Linked DNA regions of Homo sapiens: all the other regions are linked to region 1. Evidence: fine-mapped expression QTL. A gene starts in region 1. Each other region holds a variant in brackets. All regions are shown on one strand. Distances are between the middles of the regions. Region 1 holds the start of RASSF4 (Ras association domain family member 4). Region 2 overlaps RASSF4 (Ras association domain family member 4). Region 3 overlaps RASSF4 (Ras association domain family member 4). Region 4 has its middle 51 kb from the start of CXCL12.

Region 1 (5,287 bases):
ACCCACAGTAAGAAGCACACATAACTGAAACATAAACAATGCAAACAAAAAGTTCCACAAAACACAACTTATATTTACTATTTGTGCTGTACACTGGTATTTTCCCTTGCATTTTTGAAGTACTAGTCACATCATCAACTAAATTAATTTCATGACCCACTATTGGGTTGTAAGTAGAGTATGAAAAATACAAGTGGGCATGAGCCATAACTAGGGGCTGGCATGTTGCTGCTACAGACAAGTGGGTATTTCTCTCTCCTTTCCTTCCCTCCCTCCCTCTCTCTTTCCTCTCTTCCCCATTCCCTCTTTCCTCCCTCCCTCCTTCCTTCCCTCCTTTCCTTCCTTCCTTCCCTCCTTTCCTTCTTTCCTTCCTTCCTTCCGTCCTTCCTTCCTTCCTCCCTCCCTCTTTCCCTTTCTTCCTTCCTTCCTTCCTTTTTGTCCTTTTCCTTCTTTCCTATCTTTCTTTTTTCCAAAGAAGGAAATGGACATTGGCTGGCAACCAACAGTATCTGTAGCCTCCACCATAAGTGAGCTGGAGACCACACCCAGTTCTACTGAACCCTGAAAGAAAAGGTGACCCCTCCTTCTGAGGGGTCTGACAATGGACCCTCCCCTTCTGAGGGGAGGACGCTGACAATGGACACCTGTGTCTGATGTAAAATGCAAGCACTCACAGCCATAAAAGAGAATAAAATCGTGTCCTTTGCAGCAGGATGGATGTGGCTGGATGCCATTATCCTAAGCGAACTAATGCAGAAATAGAAAAGCAAACACCACATGTTCTCGCTTACAAGCAAAAGAGCTAAATATCGGGTTCACCTAGACATAAAGATAAAAACAATAGACACTGGGGACTTCAAAAGTGGGAGGGAGACAGCGGGGCGAGGGGTGAAAAACTTCCTATTGGGTACTATGCTCACCATCTGGGTGACAGGATCAATCCCAAACCTCAGTACCACACAATGTACAATTGTAACAAACCCGCACGTGTATCCCCTAAATTTAAAATAAAAATGGAAATTTTAAAAAATGCAAGCAGTAACACCAACTGCCCAGGAGTGCTGGGGGAATTGCATGGGATCCCCAATGTAAAGCACTAGCATAGTGTCTGAGCCCACAATGGGTGCACAGGACACATGGGGTTGCTGTCCCAAACCCAGTCCTCACTCAGAGCCAGTCATGGCCCTGTGAACAGCATTAATTAGGTCAGAGAGAATGATTCACACTCGAGTTCTGGAGAGCCCAGGGAAACTGTTATGTCACCCTGGTGCTATGTTTACTTCTCCTATCAGGAGTGATTAAATTCTTAGGATCTCATGCTCAGAGGTTGACAGTTATATTGAATTTTACCCACTTTTAAAAAACCTTTGGAAGCACCCGATTATTTGTCTCAGCTTTGATGAGGGCTGTGGAAGAGCAAATGTGTCATGACAAGTCACCAACCACAGGGAGCCTCAGAGCTGTCAAAGGATGGGCCATTCTCCAAAAATTCAAGCAAACGCAGAAACGGGAGGGCCCCTGGACTGGGTATCTTCAGTCCTGTCACTTTTTGCAGGTGGGGGTTCCAACATAAGTCATACAGCAGCCATACAAGCATTAGCACAGCCCCTCTAAGTCGAAGTTCAGGGACCCATGAGACTCAAATCCCAGGCTGATTTTGGTGCATATGGCCACCTGCACTTTCTAGAAGATCCATATCAGATTCTAAAATGGCCATGAGACCCTAAAAATATTAGGAAACGCACACTGAATGAAACTAAAATGATTTATGTTAGGGGTGGGAGAGAACAGGTCCAGAGGTCAGAGCTGGGAATCGTGAGGTAAAGCAGAAATTGCAAATGTTTTCCATCAACCCCATCCCCCACCTTGACACCCCCACACCCCAGAAACACTGAACTGTTCCCAGTTCCCCAAATGGCTTGTGGTTTTCTGTCCTCTCTGCCTCCGTGCTGGCAAATATTCGTCCAGGAGGCAGTGACTGGGAGAGAAAGACTAACTTCTTATTCACCAGATCGGATTTCTTAAACAATAAGGAGTTCTAAGAGGCCATGCCAAGCAAACGGCCAGACTGTACAAAGGTGCCCCTTGAGCAATAAATAGCAAATGCTCTGGGCTTTACTGATAAGCCTCCCCAGACTCCAAGCCCCACCAGGCATGCAGACAAGTGCCTGCAGTGATTGCAGCGCCTGCGCAGCGGCCCTTGTTGGAAGTCCAGGAGTCCGCGCTACCCCGCAAAGTCCCTGGCCGCTGCCCGCACACCGAACCTCTCGGGGCTGAGTCGGGCTGCTTTCTCCTCGCGTCCCGGGGCGCCCTCGGGAACTCGGGAGCGCGCGGCGAGCTGAACAATGGCCTGGGGACACCTGGCAGGTCGCAGGCCCCAAATCTTCCCCGCCGCCCCTAGGCCACCGCCCTGCACCCGGAACCTACCGGCGTTCCCAGAGCGGGGCGGACGGGGCGGTGCCATTGGCCGGTGCGGAGTGAGGGGCGTGCTCGGGGCGGGACGGAGAGACCGGGGCGGCACCTTTGGCCGTGCCGGGCGAGAGGCGGGGAGCGGGGCGGGGCGAGGGGCGAGGGGCGGGGCGAGGGGCGGGCCTGGCCCCGAGCAGCTGAAGCCTGGGGTCAGCAGGCGCTGCGGGCGCAGCTCCGGTGCAAGCGAGGACACGACACATGCAGTGGCTTCTGGACTGCGCGATGACTGGACGGTGAGTGATGAACGAGCAGGAGAGTGCTTGGGCGTCCATGGAGCATCCCCTCCGACCCAGGACTGCCACCAGGCAGGGACGCTGAAGCCTGGGCACTTGTGCCCTTCGGCCGCAGCGCGCAGGGTCCCTCCCCCGCCAGCCTGGCGCATTGCGGGCCTCGGGCTCATTGCTGAGAGGGGGCACTGCGCCTGGCACCTCTGTTAAGCAATTTAGGGGCTACAACCTGAGCAAGACAGATGAGCCCGGCCACTGGCTACACCTTTTTTGTTCACCTTGTCCTTAACCAGTTTCCTAGAAGCACTGATCCTAGAGTTGGGGAGAGAGCCTAGAGGCCTCTGGCACAACTCTGATTTCACTGATGGAAATCGAACGCCAAGATAATAGCAGCAGGGGGGGTCTGTCTCACAATCGCTGTCTGTAGAGGGCTCGCCTTGCTCTGGGCCAAGTGCTTTAACACGATATGCCTCTTACTCCTCACAGCAAGTGAGAGTCCTACTTTCGTTATCCCCTTTTCAGATGTGAAAACTGAGGCTTAAAGAGTTATAAAATTGTCCACCTTTACCGGATGAGTTGGTGATGGAGCCAGGATTTGAACCCAGGGCTTGTTGTGCCCCTGAGTCTCTTGCTCTTCACCCTTAGTCTCCGAAGGTCAGCCTGCCTGCTGCCCTGCTCTTCTGGGCTCCTGACTCCGGTCCCATCCTGCACTTCCCACTTCCAAAACATGCCTCAGTGTTTTCATTAACCTGGCACGGCGGAGGGAGGGAGGCCTCCTCTCACACCAGAATCAGTGCCCAGGCCAGGGCCAGCACTTTCTTAAAACACAGTAAGGACAGCTTCAGGAGCCCCATTTCACATAGGAATTAAATAAGGTCGCACAGCAAATAAGGGCTGGGCTTCTGGAATTTGAACCCAAGCAGGTTAGACTCCAAAGCTATGCTTTGCACTCACAGAGGAGCCCCTCGCTGGCTTTGCTGTAGTTTAACTGCCCACAGTACTAAGGTGTCAATCAGGATTTGTTGCCAGAAACCATTTTTTTTTAAGTTAGAAGTGAATTGGTGAAGTAACAGGTAAATGTAGACCATCCTGCCTTCTGTTCCTCTGTGTGGTTCCTTAGCTACTTCTGCCAGGACAGCAGGTTAGGGGAGAAGACAGGAAGGGAGAGGGTCAGAGGAGAAAGAGGAAGGGAGGGAAGAGGAGAGATGAAACTCATTAAACTTAGGTTAAAAAAATGCTGGCCGGAAATTGTCATGGGCTGTTTCAGCACTTTGTCAGTGTATGTGAAGGCTGTTGTCATTAGTTCTAGCCATAATTCTCTCAGTGTGTAGTGCTGGTGATTTGACAACAAAAAGGTTGATGCTACAGATTAAAGTGTCTGTCTGAAACTCAGGAGATTGGGTTGTATTTCCACCATGAAGCTCCAGTGGGTAGCCTGGAGGTCGAGAACAGAATCAAGGTCCAGGGTCGCCCTGGGTCAGGACCAAGTGGACCATGACAGATAACAAAGAACATGAACGAAACTTGGGTGTGTGTCAGAGTTCAGATTCTGGACGTGCAAAGCCTCAAAGGGGAGACCTAACTAGGGGATCTGCCAGAAAGCCCTCTGCCCTGGGCCCCTGGGGTCTGGGGCCTGGTTTCAGGTGTCAGCTCAGACTCTCTCCTCATTCATGGCCACTCCTGCAGGCAGGCCTCACATTCCCATCTCTGGGGCTCCACAGTCTCTCCAGAGCCCCCAACTCCCAGTGTCAATAAGAATAGTAATGGGAGCCTCTTTTCATTATGGGTGAGCCCAACACAAGGCCCATCTTACAGGTCTCCTCATTCGTCTTCACAGAAGTCATCGAGGATTATAGTTATTTAATTGATGAGGAGCCCAAGGTTCAGAGAGGGAACTGGACTTGCTTAAGGTAACAGAGCCAGGCAGTCACAGAGCAGAGCTTTAAACCCAGAGCCTTGCAAAGGCTAGGTGGTTATTCTCTCACAGAGTATGTTTGGGGAAATTGTTTTAAAATAAAGAAAATCAAATAAGAAGTGGCTGCACTTCCTAAAGCTTCAACAGTTTTCTTATTTTTGTAAAAGAGAAACTTGTAGTTCCCGGGGTCTCCTTTTCTGGCTGTCCCACCTTCTGCCCTAGGATATACTGTTGAGGAAGAGGCCCGGAACCCCCTCCCTTTGCCCTGCCTGACCTTGGGAAGCAGGGGTGGGGTGTCATTGAGCCCCATAGCTGCAGTGCTGGGAAGAGCCCTGAAGACTCTCTATCAGCTGCCACAACAGCTCTGGCTAAACTGATGCCCAAGAGACGGCGCAACACGCTAGGATCACAGGCCAAGTTAATGCCACAGCAAAACTCACATGCAAGGCTCTACAACGTTCCTCTGCCTCCTCTTTCTTGCTGTGACAGGTTTCAGCAGAGATTCTAAACCTAAGATCTGGGGATCTGGGAGTACATGGACAAGAGCTGTCTCATCTCCCTGCAGTGATATGCAAATTGTGTGTGTGTTTGCACGTGGATGCAGATTGCAACAACATGCACATACATGCATTTTCTGGGGAGAGTGCACTAAGCTTTCAAGAGACTCCAAAGGACT
Region 2 (5,287 bases), 23 kb after region 1:
TGCAGGTGGGGGAGAAAGAGGAGTCTTGAGAGTTAGCCCAAGCCTGAGCTCTGAGTACTGGGCAGACCCCAGACTCCCTAGGCAAGCAAGAGGGACCGGCAGTCCCAAGTTCTTGAATTCTAGGTGGGAACTCCATGTGCACAAAGGCATCGGGGCAGGGAGTGCCTGAGACAGTGACCAGGATTTCAGTGGCACATGGCACTTCTCACCTTGCCCAAGCTCTTATATCTTTTGTAGACCCTTTGTCTAGTTCGCTGGCTCTTCTTTGAATTTATTAGCAATGAGCAGATTAGTCAAGAGACCAAAAGAGGGAGGGAGGCGGAGAATTCGCTGCTGGCTGACGGGGCTTTCCCTCCATTCAGATGCGGCCAAGCTGGGGGAGGGTGAACAGTGGGCGGCTATGCTGGGGGCACACACATCACCTGTGTAGGCATGTCTGGCCTGAGTCATGGAGAGCCAGCCTGTCCCCAGTACAGCCAAGCCCCCGACCTTGTCCAGGCAGGTCCTGAGGTCAGGGCCACCTGCTCAGCTTTCCTCCCTGTCCCCCTTCACTCGTCTTCCAGGGTGCAGTGCACAAGCACCTCCTCCAAGAAGCTCCATTGCATCTCCTTCTGCGTCCAAGCCCGAGCCCCTCGTGGCCAGGGCTGTGTCTGCTCCATCTTCCTCTGCCTGGCGTCCAGGGTGGGGCTGGAGGGCAGTGGGTCTCCATGAGTGAGCCATCCCCACAAGCTCTCTCCACTGAGAGGCACCCGAGACCAAGAGGCAAGAACAGAACCCCCCATAGACCTTTGAACTCCATAGATCCATGCTGGCCTCTCCTTCATAGGAAGCTCAGTGACACATCTGTGCTTGTAGAGCACCAGTGAGTATCAAAAACAGCTCTGGTTTCTGCTTGTTTGTTTTCCTTTTTAGCAGATAGTGCAAGGTCATATCTGGAAGCTGTGTGTATATTTGATAACCTTTGGATACACTATTTTCTCTGTGGATGGCAGGATGTTTGAACCTAGAAACCCCATTTCTAAGTTACCATGAAATCCACATTGTGCAGGGTCTTCCTGAGTGCTGCCAGGGATACAAAGAAGTTTCCATGGCGTCCCTGTTCTCACAGGGCTTTTAGTGCCAACGAGGAGAGAGAAATGGGATTTGTGAATCTAAAATATGGGTCAGAAATACTGCATGATTCCCTTATATAAGGAATCTAAAATAGGCTCATAGAGGCAGAGAGTGAAAATGGTGGTTGCAGGGACTGGGGCAGGGGAGGAGGAAGTGGAGAGTTGCTGTGCAGCTGATATAATGTTTCAGCTATGCAAGATGAGTAAGTCCTGGATATGGGCTGGACAACGTTGTGCCTACAGTGAACAATACAGTATTGTGCACTGAACAGTTTGTTTAGAGGGTAGTTCTTATGTTAAATGTCCTTATCACAATAAAACATAAATAATAAAATTAAATGTTGGTTGAGATGGCAATGAGAGAATGATATTCAAAGTTAATTGTGGGAAGACTAGTGTCAGAGCACATTAGGAGTGTGTAGTTTCGAGACTGCGGCTCTGGGTAGAGGGCAGCTGAGGTTGCTGGCAAGTATTCTGGCAAATGACTCAGCTTGGCCAGGCTTACACACAGAGTGACCGGGATTGGCACAGAGGCCTGGGGTGGTCTCGCAGAGACAGAGGCCTGGAATAGGTCAGAGGCACTGAATCAAGGGCCCAAGGGGTGCCAACCAGCACTACTAGCAAGGTGCGTGCAGAGGACTCTGTTGATTAGGGCCCCAGGTTGGCAGCAGGAGAGAAGCCATGTCACCTGCAGACCTAGGGAAACCGAGGGAGGTTGGGGACATGGGATGAAGGCTGTTGTAGAAATTCTGGTATGGGATATAGGGCTAGTGATGTCTAAGCAGTGGTGAGAAAAGCAAGACCCTTTGTCAGCCCTGGCAAGTGGACGCTGCTGCTGTTGGAAGGCACCGGGAGAAGGGTGAGGCTGAGACACAGCTAGGACAGAGAGTGCCCACTTCTCCTCTGGTGGGTGTGGGACCCTGCCGGGCCTGGTGGCCATAGGACCTGGTGGCGCAGGACCCCCTCCCAGGTGCAGTGTGGGCAGAGAGGTCCCCTGCTTGGCATGAGCAGACAGGCTGTGCGTCCCTGGAACCACTTCTTCACCGCGGTGTGGACGTGCCTGCCGGCCAGCAGCTGGCTTCCTGTGGGACACCTGACTCAGCCACTGTGTTCTGCGCTGTGCCCCTGGCCAGGCATGAGCTGAGCACATCTCAGGCTCCCTCCCACAGGGCCTGGTCACACGCCCCAGGGCACGTAGTGGCTGATGGTCCTTCCTGAGGGGATGGGGCCACTCAGGAGGAGGGATGTGCAAGGCCTGAGTGTTCAGAGCATCCCATCCCTAGGGGGCACAGGGAAGGTAGGCAGCTGCTCTGGGGGAAGGGCTGATGTGTGGACCCCCACAGGAAGAAGGGACTCTGATCATCGAGGGGCTCCTCAACATTGCCTGGGGGCTGAGGCGGCCCATCCGGCTGCAGATGCAGGATGACCGGGAGCAGGTGCACCTCCCCTCCACCTCATGGATGCCC[A/G]GACGGCCTAGCTGCCCTCTGTGAGTACCCGGTGGCTTCTGTGACACCTGCTCAGCCTGAGCTCCCGGGTTGGGGATATCCCGAGCCTCAGGGTGGGAGCCCTGTTCCCTTATGGGACACTGGCACAGGAGGGTGACCCAGCCTCATCCCCATGCCCTGTGACTGCCTCAGTCCACAGCCTCGCCCAGGGTGGCCTCTCCCTCCTTCCTGGAGAACATTCCAGGCTCCCATGACCTCTATTTCTGTTTCTCAAACCTTCCTGCAAGCCACCTTGCTGGCAAGAAGGGACGACTACAGCCAGGGGGGCTCCCAACACCTATGCAAGCCGAACATGTCTCGCCATCTCTTGTTCTATCTTTAAAATTCACACGAATTTAGCCTCTTACTACTCTGTTTTCATTTTAATGTCAAAATTTTAAAAATAAATTTATCAGAATTTCACATTACATTTGTTTAATATCAGAATAATGTTTCTGTCAGGAGGAAATGGTCTCCTGCCTGCCTTACCATTCAATGCACATTTATCTCCTCCTCGGCCCACTCCCAAAAGACGCAGTTAGTAGCTGGGCCTTGCCTGCTTCTGCAGTAGTAACTCCTGTAGAGGGCACACATTCAGAGCTTTGCCCCCTTCAGATTTCATATGAAACCCATGCTGTGACAGCACCCACCACCCTGACAGCCCCAGCACATACCTAGGTGTCCCCAGTCACTCAGCGAATTCTGAGGCACACAGAATTAGAGCATAAAGTCAGACTCCTTAGGAAGGCTGCAAGTGTGACTCACATGTGCCCCTCTTCGAGGTAAAGCACTCACAGACAGCAGTCGCGGCTGTGCCCGTGTATTCTCCAGGATCCCATCTGTCTTCTCTTCCCCAGGTCCCCTGGGCTACAGGGCTGTGCCCCATCATACCCACTCCTTCTCCAGCCCAGCACTAGCTACCCTGGCCTGGGGCTCATCCTGCCAAGAGGCCTGGAGGTTGGGCCCTTCTAGGTGGCCCCTGCCTGACACCCCACTAGGCCTTCGGGAAGCCCAGCGAGCCTGTTTGGCACACAGCTGCTGGCCTGGCTAAGCCTGGTGTCTAGGAATGCGCAGGCCCTGACTATGTTCATGTGTCCGTGTGTCTGTGCGATGCAGCCCAGCACAAGCCCTCAGGTCTGCAGGGCCAGGCTCACTCTCCGTCCAGCAGATGCTGGGGGGAGGCCTCTACTTTTCTTTTATTGTTTCAGACTGACTCTCTTGGTTTGAAATCCAGGCCTCACCTCAGCCTGCCTTGCTTCCCGCCTGTGTCCTACCCCAGGGGCTGCTGGTCTCTTCTCCTTGGCCTGAGCTCCCTTTCTCTGCCGGCAGCCATCTCAGCCCTGCAGTTGTCTGTTTTCAGAAAGGAGCCATCGCCCCAGAACGGGAACATCACAGCCCAGGGGCCAAGCATTCAGCCAGTGCACAAGGCTGAGAGTTCCACAGACAGCTCGGGTAAGCGGAGCCCGCAAGCTGCCCAGACCCCTGCCTCATCCGGGGTAGGAGCAGAGGGGCTTGGCTCACAACCACAATCTCCGAAGGACAGCTTTGTGCCCCAGCCAACGAGGGGCTTCACCTGCTGGACCCCTACCCAGGTGCCTGCCTGTGAGGTGCTCTGCCCTCATTCTCGCTCCTTTTTATGGAAAAGTGAGCAGAGGCTTGGGAGGTGACAGTGACAGTGTGGGGGTGGCCTGAGTCCCCCGCCCTGTGTGTGCTATGGGAAACAGGAGCATCCACAGAAGGCACTGCGCTCTCCTGGCCCCTCACCTCCCTCTGCGACCTCGTCCTCACCCTCTGTACCTGCTCACTCATCCTTTTTATTCCCCTTCCTTTAGCCCTCAGTGAAGGGCCTGTTTCAGAGCAGGGGCTCAGAAGACAGGGCTGGGGCCACCAAAGACCTCCATGGGCACCCTAAGACAGAGACCAAGAGGGGTATGGCCATGTGACATTGTGACCCAGGTTACCCTGTCTGGGTCTCACCTTCCTATCTGCAAGCTGGGAATATCCAGCCTCCAGTCCAGGAATGGCCCTCACGTCCCCATCTGCCCCAGTGCACGTGACCACAGGGCTCTAGGGTGCCAGATCTCCCGACAGCAGGCAGTTGCTCTGTCAGCATCACCCACCCTGCCATTCTCTCACCCATTTCTCATGCAGGGCCCCTGGAGGAGGCAGAGGAGGCCCCCCAGCTGATGCGGACCAAGAGCGACGCCAGTTGCATGAGCCAGAGGAGGCCCAAGTGCCGCGCCCCCGGTGAGGCCCAGCGCATCCGGCGACACCGGTTCTCTATCAACGGCCACTTCTACAATCATAAGGTGATGCCCCAGCCTGGCCTCTCCCCTGGGCGCATGGGGAGCCAGGCCTGAGCACAGGCACAGCAAGCACCATGACCTGTGTGGGGGCTGCTGGCATTCCTGTGCCCTCAGGAGGAAAAACCAGGTTGCATCCACATAACAGCCCCGTTTATGACCTAAGCATTTTCCAGCACATGCTCACTGTCAGTGCATCCTCACAAGTCACACAGAATTCTGGCAAGTAAGCTGGGGATGCCCTGGGCAGACAGTAACGCTGACCGTGTCTTCAATGAGGGCGCTTTCTAGGAGGCTTCCCCCCGAACTCGATTGGTTGATCCCTGGGAACACTGTGTATCCAGCCATCACTCTCACCGAATAATTAAGCAGGGGTGTGCCCAGGGCA
Region 3 (5,287 bases), 29 kb after region 1:
ATGGGGTCTCAGCCTGTCACCCAGTGAGGGCAGCTTTTCCTCCTAGTGACAGATTTGCCCTTGCAATGTGAATCCATTCTTCCAGAAAAAAGTACTGCTTTCAAGGACACAGAATAGTGTCTTAAGCATTTGGGACAGTAGCTCCCCCACCTCCTGGGTAAGGGAAGTCCCAAAGAAAAGCACTATGCAAAAAGCCCTTTCTTACCACGCTCAACATCCATACAGAACTAATGTCCTTAGAAATGAGGGGACAGATTCCTTGAGTCAGAGGCAACAATTGAAAAAATAAATAATTCCTAGCATTGAATTTCTGAGATAGTTCCAGGTTTTGTTTCTTAGAACTGTGCACCATTACTTCACTCAGTCATTTTCCAAAACTGTTCTGATTCCCAGAAATGTTGGTTTTATTTCCAGACAGGGTGAAACTTTGTAGCTGTTTCTACTGCCTGACCTATTGGATTCAAATGCGTTCTGTTAGAGAGAAACCATTTGTGGTTAGAGATAAGAAAGTAGCCAGGGGGCCTTTGTTCCTACTTGGAGTTGGTTGGTATCATCTTGAGAAAAGGCTTCGTGCAGAAGAAACACAGTGTCTTGTTAACAAGACTTTTTGTCCCTTTGAAATAGCCTAACTCCTCTGTTTCATGTTTCTTTTTTTATTTGAGATGGAGTCTCACTCTGTAGCCAGGCTGGAGTGCAGTGGCACGATCTGGGCTCACTGCAACCTCCACCTCCTAGGTTCAAGCGATTCTTCTGCTTCCTGAGTAGCTGGGACTACAGGTGCGCACCACGATGCCTGGCTAATTTTTGTATTTTTTGTAGAGACAGGGTTTCACCATATTGGCCAGACTGGTCTTGAACTCCTGACCTCGTGATCCGCCCGCCTTTGCCTACCAAAGTGCTGGGATTACAGGCGTAAGCCACTGCACCTGGCCCTCTCTTCCATATTTCTTTGGACAAGAAAGCCTAATCCTAATCCTGGCTTTCTGTATAACTCAGTCATTCTGCACCTCAACTAGAATCGAGCTGGGGGAAGCAGGTCGAGGTTGAGTCTGACTCTGGCACAGCGTGCTTCATTTTATTGTGCTTCTTGTTACTGTACCTTGCAGATTTTTGCAAATGGAAGGTTGCTGTTCAGCAACCTTCCATTTGCAAAAATGTGCACTTTTTTTTTTTTTTTTGCTGCACCTGCGGTTTCTGCAAATTGAAGGTGTGTGGCAACCTTGTGTTGAACAAGTCTATCGGTGCCGTTTTCCAACACTATGTGCTCACTTTGTGTCTCTGTGTCAGATTTTTTAGCAATAAAGTAGTTTTAATTAAGGCATGCATATTTTTTAGATGTAGTACTGTCTCACCCTTAAGAAACTACAGTATAGTATAAACATATCTTGTATATGCCCTGGGAAACCAAAACATTTGTGTGACTCACTTTATTGAGATATTCGCTTCATTGTGATGGTCTGGACCTGAACTCACAATGGCTCCCAGGTGTGCCTGGACTTATCAGAGCGGGGATACTGAATAGGTCCTTGAGCTCTCTGAGCCTTAGCTACCTCCTTGGGAAAACAGAGCTAGGATCTCAGAGGAGGAATATGCGAATCTAAACTTGAGTTTGAAAAGCAAGGAGAGGTTCACCTGCAGAGGAGTCACATTCGCTGGGAGGCACCAGCACCAGGGGGGTAACATGTAGGTTTTCAGGAATCATGGAATCCTTTGAGTCAGGGCTCTGTCTTTTCTAGGTGGGTAACTCTGAACAAGCTGGTTAACCTCCTAAAGCCTCTGATTCCTTTCTAAGAAAAGGGGACTAGTTATAGCTGCCTCAAAGGGTTGTTATGAATATTAAATCAATGATTGTATGTAAAATCTTAGCGGGTTCAATACACAGCTAGGGTTTATTGAGGACGGACCTATTATGTGTCAGGCAGAGTCCTGGTTGATTTCATATATGGTGTCTCTTAGGCAAAGGCAAGATACCTGCAAAAATATAATGTGTCCCCCCACCCCCCAGCCAAATTGTGAAGAAGCTCTGTGACTGGAGCACATGGTGCTTGTTAGGCAACCATAGTGTCATACGTGCGAGACAATGAGAAGAACTACAGATGTTATTGCACAGTCCCCAGGAAGCCTTCAGATACTTTTAGACCCGCGCTTTCAAACAGTGCTTCTCACATTGAACTGCACAGATCGCTTCGCCTTGTGTTCTACAGACGCAGACTCTGATTCAGATGGTATGGAGCAGGGTAGGGAAGGGAGCCGAGACTGTATGGATGCAGCTGGGCTAGACGTCACTTGGAGGTGCAAGGGTTTTAGAAGTCCGTTCCTGTAGGCAGCGGTGCAGACTACGGATTAGAGGGACTGAGACCAGAAGGGAACAAGCTGGGAAGCTGATATGGTGTGA[T/C]CAGTGCCTCTACTAGGCACTGCTGGGAGAATGAAGAGGAGGAGACAGATTGGGTAACTTTCAGCCTTAGAATCAACAGACAACTGGTGACTTAATCAATAGAAAGAGTGATGGAGAGACTGATTCCCCCACCCTTGTGAATGACTTCCATGGCCCTGGTTCCTCGGGTCCAGAGAGCTGGCCCTTCTGGGTGTGTAGACATCTTCCTTAGGCCTCTGGAAGGAGTGCACTACTACAGCTTCCCGGAGTGTCTCCCAGGTCTGGGAACAGCTTATGTGTGCATCAGCGTGAATGGACAGGTGCAGGTGTTCCCAGATCTCAGCGTCACCTGCTGCCTTGGTCTGTTCACCGTTGTGATGTCAGTCCCTTGTCCCCTCTGGGCCTGACCTGAACTTCTCTCCCTTCCTGGTACAGACCTCCGTGTTTACTCCAGCCTATGGATCCGTGACCAATGTGAGGGTCAACAGCACCATGACAACCCTGCAGGTGCTCACCCTGCTGCTGAACAAATTTAGGGTAAGCCTGGTCAGGAGCAGCCTTGCCCCAGGATGCCAGTGGTCTGCTATTCTGTTGGGGGTGGGGTTCTGGGGAAAGCTGCCCGTGGCAGAAGCTGCCTGGGCAGAAGGTCTAGCAAGGGTCCCTCTGCTGAGCTTTGGTTTCTCGGATTTCAAGCAAGAGGAGGTTGGGAGAGGACAGGTTCCTTGCAACTTGCGTGTGTGTTACTGGGGGTGTAGTTACTGTCAGGGGACCCTCTCAGTTCTCTCCCATCTCCAAGCACCGTGATCTGACTTCCTGTGACTGCCTGTGCAGGTGGAAGATGGCCCCAGTGAGTTCGCACTCTACATCGTTCACGAGTCTGGGGGTAAGTACCTGCCCCACTTCTGGATCGTAAAAGCAAAAGGTCTCTACCTGTTCAGCAAGCCCCCTCCCCACCAACCACTGACTGTACTCCCTTCCAGATGGGCTCCGTGCTGGCTTGCCTAGTGGGCTAGGGCACACTGTGCCTCCCAGCATGAACATTTCTCCCCCACCCAAACCCAGGCACACTATGGAAGCCTTGAGGAAAAGAAAACATACTTTTGGCTTCGAATTTAAAGCACATTAAAATGTCCTTGGATTTTCTAGGTCGCTCAGTACATTAAGTTTAATTCTTTCAGGATTCTGAAGGAGAATCCCACCAAGCTATAGGAAGCCTCCCTCTCCGCCTCTTCCAGAGAAATGGATGGGTGGGTACCTAGCTCCTTGGCGCCGAGTCAGGAAGGGTGGGGTGCGTGTCGCAGTGCATCAGGCCCTGGCCCTCCCGTCTCAGCTTTCCTTTCTCCCACCCCTCAGATCTTGTTTCTCTTCAAGCTGCACCTTTGCTGAATGACACTGTAGGGGAGGAAAATTATCTTCTCTTTCTACCCATTTAGGTTCACTGGCTGGGGCCCTGTATTTAGATTAACAAAAGACAGATTAAGGAGAAGAACAAACAGAAGTTTGTTAACACTTGCATCATGCATGCCCTTTGGAATATCCAGGGATGAATGGTCAGAATTTGGGCTTAAATAGCATATTCACAAAAGAGCAGTAAGTTTTTAGAGAAGTGACAAGACAGAGGAGAAGGGCCTGAGTTTCTGGGGAGGCGAAGGGTGGGAAGGTCACCGCACGGGGAGCTGCGGGAAGGGAAGGGCTTCAGCGGGACGTGCTGTGCAGGTTCCTCTGGTGCCCTCTCCAGGCTGAGGAGGGGCTCGGGTTGTCTCTGGTGATTAACTCCATCATTGCCTAGAGAGGGACGGGGGCACACCTTGACAAATTTATGTCCTGCTTTTTGGCAAATAGGGGAGGGCAAAGAGCCTCACTTGTATCTTCTTCTTCTCAATTGCCAGCCGCTCCACTTAATCCTTATGCCAAAGTGGCAGATCTGGGGGCCCTGTTCTGCCTCCCTTCTGCATGAGCAGGAATCTCTCAGGGCAGCGCTGTTAGCGAGGTCTGTGTTCTTAGGGTTCCCTGCGCCCCTAGACGCACATTTTCTATCAGTTCCTAATCTGGAACAGACAGAGGTGATCCTAATCTCCCGTGATTTTTGTAAACCACCTTCTTTTTCAGAGCGGACAAAATTAAAAGACTGCGAGTACCCGCTGATTTCCAGAATCCTGCATGGGCCATGTGAGAAGATCGCCAGGATCTTCCTGATGGAAGCTGACTTGGGCGTGGAAGTCCCCCATGAAGTGAGTGGGGGCCAAGGCTGGGGAGGCCTGCTCTAGGGTGAGGGGTTCTTGGGTGACGGGGCCTCCCAAGGACTCCTGGCCAGAGCCCTGTCAGTTGATGTCTCCAGGAGCTCCACACTCTCCCAAAGGGCTCCCAGCCTAGCACAGGGAGGCGCCAGCCCTCCCTCTCCCATCAGTGACCGCCAGCACCAGCAGCTTAGGGGAAAGAAGAATTTGGGTCCTATAAAACCATGGCCTGTCCTTTTCCTCTAGGGAAGTAAAGTCTTTTCCTTCATTGGAATGTATTTTGTTGTCATTATGTGAGAGACCTATGCAAAGGCTTTTTAACTAGGCCCTACCTCGCACCTGTGGAAAACAGGGAGATATTTAAGTCTTACCAACAGCCTGAGTTCTGACCAGACAGTGAGTGCATTTCCAAACTCCTCTGCATAGAAGATGCTTACAGGGTTTGAACCTCAAGTAGGAGGCCTAGTGACCCCGTATCCCTCAGGCTGCTGCAATTGCATTCCATTGTTAGAAACAATGGTGCTCCCACCTCCCTACCCCCTAGCCCAGAGGGCACCCAATGTGACAATGCTGCTGTACTGAATGCTCTTCCTAATATTCAGTTTAATATTTCCTCCCAGGGATAACAGTTGCCTTTGAGATAGTAATAGGCTCCCGTCCTGGCATCTGTACACAA
Region 4 (5,287 bases), 520 kb before region 1:
TCATTTGTAGAAGTTGTGATTGTTTTTTATTTATGCTTTCTATTTCACTTAAGATTTTTCCCTTTGTAGCTTGTATAAGTTTTGTTTGTTTTTGTTTTTGTTTAAATTTCATTAAAGTTGGACTTCACATTTCTCTGGTGCCTCCTTGAATAGCTTAATAATTGACTTTCTGAATTCTTTTTCTGGCAATTCAGAGATTTCTCCTTGGTTTGGCTCTGTTGCTGGTGAGCTAGTGTGATCTTTTGGGCATGTTAAAGAACCTTGTTTTGTCATATTACCAGAATTGTTCTTCTGACTCTTTCTTATTTGGGTAGGCTATTTCAGAAGGAAGATCTGGGGCTCAAGGGCTGCTGTTCATATTTTTTTTTTGTCCCATGGGGTGCTCCTTGGATGTGGTGCTCTCCCCTTTACCCTAGGGATAGGGCTTCCTGAGAGCTTAACTGGAGTGATTTTGGTTTCTCCTTAGGATCTAGCCACCTAATGGAGCTACCAGTCTCTGGTCTGGTATTGGGGAGGGTCTGCACTGAGTCCTATAATGTGAACTGAACTGTCTCCAGGTCTCTCAGTTGTGGATACCAGCACTTGCTTCAGTGGACGTAGCAGGGGAGTGAAGAGGACTCTGCAAGGGTCCTTGGTTGTAGTTTTGTTTATTGCACCATTTTTGTGTTGGTTGGCTTCCAGCCAGGAGGTGACAATTTCAAGAGTGCATTAGCTGCCATAGTATAGGGAGGATCAGGTGGTGGGCAGGGCCCTAGAGCTCTGAAGAGATTATGTCCTTTGTCTTCAGGGTTTTTTGGCTGTCTCTGGGCACCTGCAGCAGCAATCCACTTCCTTCAGAGGGTCTGTGGATTCTCTCCGCTTTCCGGGTATGTTGCTATGGTAGTTCTTGGAGCAAAAGTTCACGATGTGAGTCTCCATACACTGCTCTGTCCAACCGAGTGGGAGCTGCAAGTTAGTCCTGCCTCCTATCTGCCATTTTTCCAGGGTTCTGATCATCTGTCCTTTCTTCTGTAGAGTCTTAGGCTGGGGAGGTGCAGGAGAAGGGGAAGTGGGTACCCTGATAATGCAGTTTTCCTGACCAGGGTCTCCAGTTCTTTGGGACTTTGAGCCAACTAAGACAGAGGCAGAGACAGGAGCTCCACGCCACCTGTTCTCTGCCCACATCACTGGCAGGGCCCCCAGGGACCTCTGCTCTTTGGGACCAACAGACACATTTGCTCTTCACTCCTCTAAAGTAGCCCTGAAGGCCGGGGCTTTCAGCCTCAGCCTCCTGTGGCCTCAGCCTCGCTTGTTGCAAAGTCTCAGGTATTTCACCTTCCTACCCCCAAGTGGGGAATCAGCTCGAGGAGTCAAAAGAGATGTTTCTTTTTCCACTCGGGTCACTGTCCAGTGTCCCCAAAGCATAGATGGATCCGAGGTGAGAACCTCTGTGGACTGAGAGAAGCAGTGGTGATGCATGTCCTTGACAAGCTGGGACTAGACTGGACACACCAGCTTCTGTCCAGATCTGCTTGCTCATCAACTTCACTTGGCTTCTGCTTTGCTCTGCACCCTGGTTCCGGTAGCTGCAGGGATATTGAACTCACATTTCAATGGCACTATCATGCCTTGGCCGCCAGAACCTAAACGTTAGAATCTGGCTCTTCCCTCTTCCCCTTGCCTCACTTTTCACCAAATCCTGATCATGCATCCTCTGCCACAGCGAGAGCTCTTTCCCTCCTTGCTGCCCTCCTGCCCTCTGCCTGGTTTAGCCTCATGGCTTCCTTCCTGCATTATTTTAATGACCACCTGCCTGTGTACCCCTCGTCCCCAGGCTCCCTCCTCCAGGGCACCTTCCCTTAGCAGTGAGAGAGATCTTTCCAAGGCATAGCTGGGGTCCCCACTTTCTAGGAAGAAAATGCAATGTCTCTCAAATAACATTCATAGGATTTTCATGGTTCTTGAGGGAGAAACGGGAATCCACATATCTCACCTGCCTTTATATACCAGAGAAGAGGCAGCAGACTGCCAATTCCCTGCAGAGGCCCTGGGATGGAAGGCTCCATCCCTGTCCTAGCCACTTGTTCTTCCCCTGCATCTGTGGCCTCCGGGCTAGTGTGCTCAGGGATCTGACTGCTGCCTTGGCACCCTCAGCCCCATCATCCTTCCCATGAAGTGCCCTTTCTCAATGAGTAGCCTCATCCACCACTGTCACCCAAACCCCAGGCCCATCCTTTGCTGTATCTTCCCTACTTATCCAGCTGGTTGAAGCTGCCTCTGAGTGCAGTTAATCTGCTCTTGGTGCCCTCTTGTCTCCTGGCCCACCCTCACCTGTGGATACCTGGCGCTGCCTCTC[C/A]AAGGCCATCCCTCCCACCAGTGTTTGCCTTACCCCTGTCCCCTGCCTCTCAAGTCAGAGGTAATCCCTGCTGCTGCTAGGGTGATCTGTCTAGTGATAAAATCCGACCTGCTGGTACAGCCTGCAAGCCTCACTTGGTCCTCCCCTCCCCTCCACCTCAGCTCCCAGCATCCTTGTGCACCTGTGGCCAACCATGCCCAGCTCTTTCTCATGTGCATTGGCCTTTGAACATGAGCTGTCTTTGCCTGGAGCATCTTTTCCCTCCTGACACTGGCAAGCTGCTGCTGGGCCTGCCCTTCTCAGCATGATTTTACCTCTCCCAGGAAGCTCTCCAGGGACCCTTAGGCTGGGTCTCATGTGCTGGCTCTTGCTTCCTCAGCACTCTGTTCATGCTGGAGAAATAAAGTGGCATAAAGTAGAGTCCTGCTCCTTAAGGTTCGAGTGTAGACCTCTGACTGCTCCTGCAACAATCACTTCTATCACCAGCATCAGCAGGTTTTCCCTTGCCACTGCATCTTTCCAACAGCACATCAGCTTGCAGTGAAAGCTTGGTCTTTAAAAATAGGAATATGAAGCTTGTTTCCTGCCTCAGGACCTTGTTCCTGACCCTACTCCTTCCTGGATGGCCCCCGTGCAGGTCTTCTCAGGGTCATCTTGACTCCGCATCCCTCCTGCAACCACCATCCCACTTCTCTGCTCCTCTCTAAAGGAACATCTGCAGAAGTGGCATGTCTAATACCAAAATGTTGGTTCCTACCCCAGAACTGCCCCATCCCCACAGCCCTGTTCTACCTAGACAGGGTCCGCATCTCACGGAGGGCACTGCCATCTTCCTGTTTGGCCTTCCCACCCAGGAGCTCCTACTGCTGCCTACCCTACTTCCCATAGTGCTTGGGGTTATGATCTCCATGTGCTTCTACTCCAAACCACCTGTAGTTTCCTGTCCCTTCCAGAAGAAAATCCAATCCCAACACCGTGGCCTGTAAGGCCCTGACCACCTCCTGCCATGCCTTCACTTGCCCTGTTCCAGCTACACTGACTGTGAGATTCCTATAACATGAAGCTGTTTTTTCTCACTCCAGGACCTTTGCATTGACTCCACTCCTTCCTGGACAGCCTTCCAGGCTCTTCTCAGGGTGTCTCCCTCACATCGCTCAAGTACGTTCCCTCAGAGAGGCCTTCCCACACCTCCGGACCTGGTGTCCCTGGCCATGTCCTCTCCTGCTCCCTGAACACAGCAAGCTTCCTTCCATTCATATTATTTATCAGGACCTGAAATGGTCAATTTATTCACTTATTTATTGTCTGTTTCTCCTTCTGGAAATATAAACTTCCGGGCAGGGACCTCATGTGACTTATTTATCACCTAAACCCAGGGCCTGGCTGGTACTGGAGGAGCTGATGGGCCCTGGGGGTTCCTCCCAGCTTCATGACATGGCCCACCGCTGGCCTTCTGCATCAAGGCTGGGAATACTGTAGCCAGAAGGAAAATCTCTCTGTTAACATGGAATTAATAAAAGAATGCTTATACATGGTTGCAGGTAATATATATATAAGATAAAAATGACATTCTGCCGAGAGATAGAGAGAACCCATAAACTGTTTTTCCTGCATCCTTACATTGTCTTCATATGAAAAGAAAATTTTAACTGCTGGCTTACACACTAGTTTTAGATGTAAGCCACCATTTATGAGACCTTTTGGTAAGTGCTGAAGTAAAGTGATGAGCAGGAAACCAGGCCAGCATGTCCCGGCACCAAGAATGGGAGTGGCCACAGGGCAGCCTTCCCTGGAGAACTTGCTCTGATGCCCCGTGAAGTCCTGTGAGCTCTGGGGCCAGAACCTGGCCTGGTACCCCTGCGCCCCAGGGCTCTGCCCCAGTCCATGATTCTTTCTGGGATTGTCATGGACTTAACTCATTACCAAACACGCATAGCCCCTTGAGGAGTTTTGGCACACAAGGCATTTGGGATGTCTTGGGGAAGAAAATGAAATACTTTAATGTAATCAAAAACACAGGAAGCAGATGCCCCTGAAATATAATATGTTCTAGGAGCTGCTCCCCTGCTGTGTGGCCTTTCATGCTCTGCAATATTCCAATGCCTTTTTTTTTTCCCCACAGAATCACTCACATGTCACTTTGGTGAGAGGATGAGGCATTCAGATTGGGAGAACTTGTTGCTTTGTCAGCATTATTTTCAGACAAGAAGTTTTACTTCTTGTTTTTATATTTTGAGAGAACAATGTCTTACAACATTCAGGAATTAGTACTTTGCATTTTCAGGTTCACTTTGGTGCAGCCCTTAGGGTGCTTGTGGGTCTGGCCCAACCTTCCCTGGAATGAGTCTTCGGTTGAGGGGGCCTGACGTCAGCGCCCTGCAGGGTTCATCTGTGTCACCTAAAAGTGTCCGGCTGCTTGGCCTGGCTATTTCTGCTGAATGCACAAAAATACATTTTGCCTTTTCTCCTTCCAAGTTGCAGTTTCTTTTCTGCAAATGAAGCAGAAGAAAAGTGCTGCATTGACATGATGAACTGAAAGCACACTCACTTCAGGGACATGTTTCTTCAGTTGGGAAATTCCTCTTTTATTTGTGACTAGTTGTTTTCTTTCCTTAGTCAACTTCCTTCAACCCTCAATGCATGTGACACACACACACACACACACACACACACACACACACACACACATAATCGGGGTGCCCAGAAGTTCCCAGGGCCCAGCACTGGCTCTCTGAGACTGTAGGCTCTGGGGGAGGGTGGGCTTTAGGGAAGGTGTCTGTCTAGGGTGGGGTGTGCAGGTGAAGAGCTGGGGTTGGCCTATGAGAGACCTGGGCCCCACTGGCTGCCCCTTGATGTCCTCTCTGATCTTGTCTTTTCCATCCATGAAACAGAGGTGAGCCACAGTGCCGAGCCCACAGGGGTGGGGAAGTCACTGTGCACAGCTCCAGGCAC

The links.
Region 2: its variant is fine-mapped to the expression of RASSF4 in skeletal muscle (GTEx, PIP above 0.99).
Region 3: its variant is fine-mapped to the expression of RASSF4 in whole blood (INTERVAL, PIP above 0.99).
Region 4: its variant is fine-mapped to the expression of RASSF4 in non-classical monocytes (Schmiedel 2018, PIP 0.94).

What each region holds. Positions count from the first base shown.
Region 1 is chr10:44,957,165-44,962,451 of GRCh38, forward strand. RASSF4 (Ras association domain family member 4) reads left to right here and starts at 2,638. Exons shown (of 11, transcript NM_032023.4): 1 at 2,638-2,702. TMEM72-AS1 (TMEM72 antisense RNA 1) reads right to left here and starts at 2,525. Exons shown (of 8, transcript NR_033842.1): 1 at 2,428-2,525. RefSeq lists an enhancer at 2,317-2,611 and a silencer at 2,389-2,608.
Region 2 is chr10:44,980,066-44,985,352 of GRCh38, forward strand. RASSF4 (Ras association domain family member 4) reads left to right here. Exons shown (of 11, transcript NM_032023.4): 4 at 2,456-2,598; 5 at 3,957-4,048; 6 at 4,748-4,905. Among named protein-coding and RNA genes, the nearest start is that of DEPP1, 3.9 kb to the left of the region's middle. RefSeq lists enhancers at 1-343, 344-1,045, 494-563, 3,837-4,337. The variant A/G (reference allele first, on the strand shown) is at 2,579.
Region 3 is chr10:44,986,465-44,991,751 of GRCh38, forward strand. RASSF4 (Ras association domain family member 4) reads left to right here. Exons shown (of 11, transcript NM_032023.4): 7 at 2,810-2,911; 8 at 3,206-3,257; 9 at 4,484-4,605. Among named protein-coding and RNA genes, the nearest start is that of DEPP1, 10 kb to the left of the region's middle. RefSeq lists enhancers at 4,538-5,229, 5,259-5,287. The variant T/C (reference allele first, on the strand shown) is at 2,396.
Region 4 is chr10:44,433,889-44,439,175 of GRCh38, forward strand. No RefSeq gene overlaps it. Among named protein-coding and RNA genes, the nearest start is that of CXCL12, 51 kb to the left of the region's middle. The variant C/A (reference allele first, on the strand shown) is at 2,336.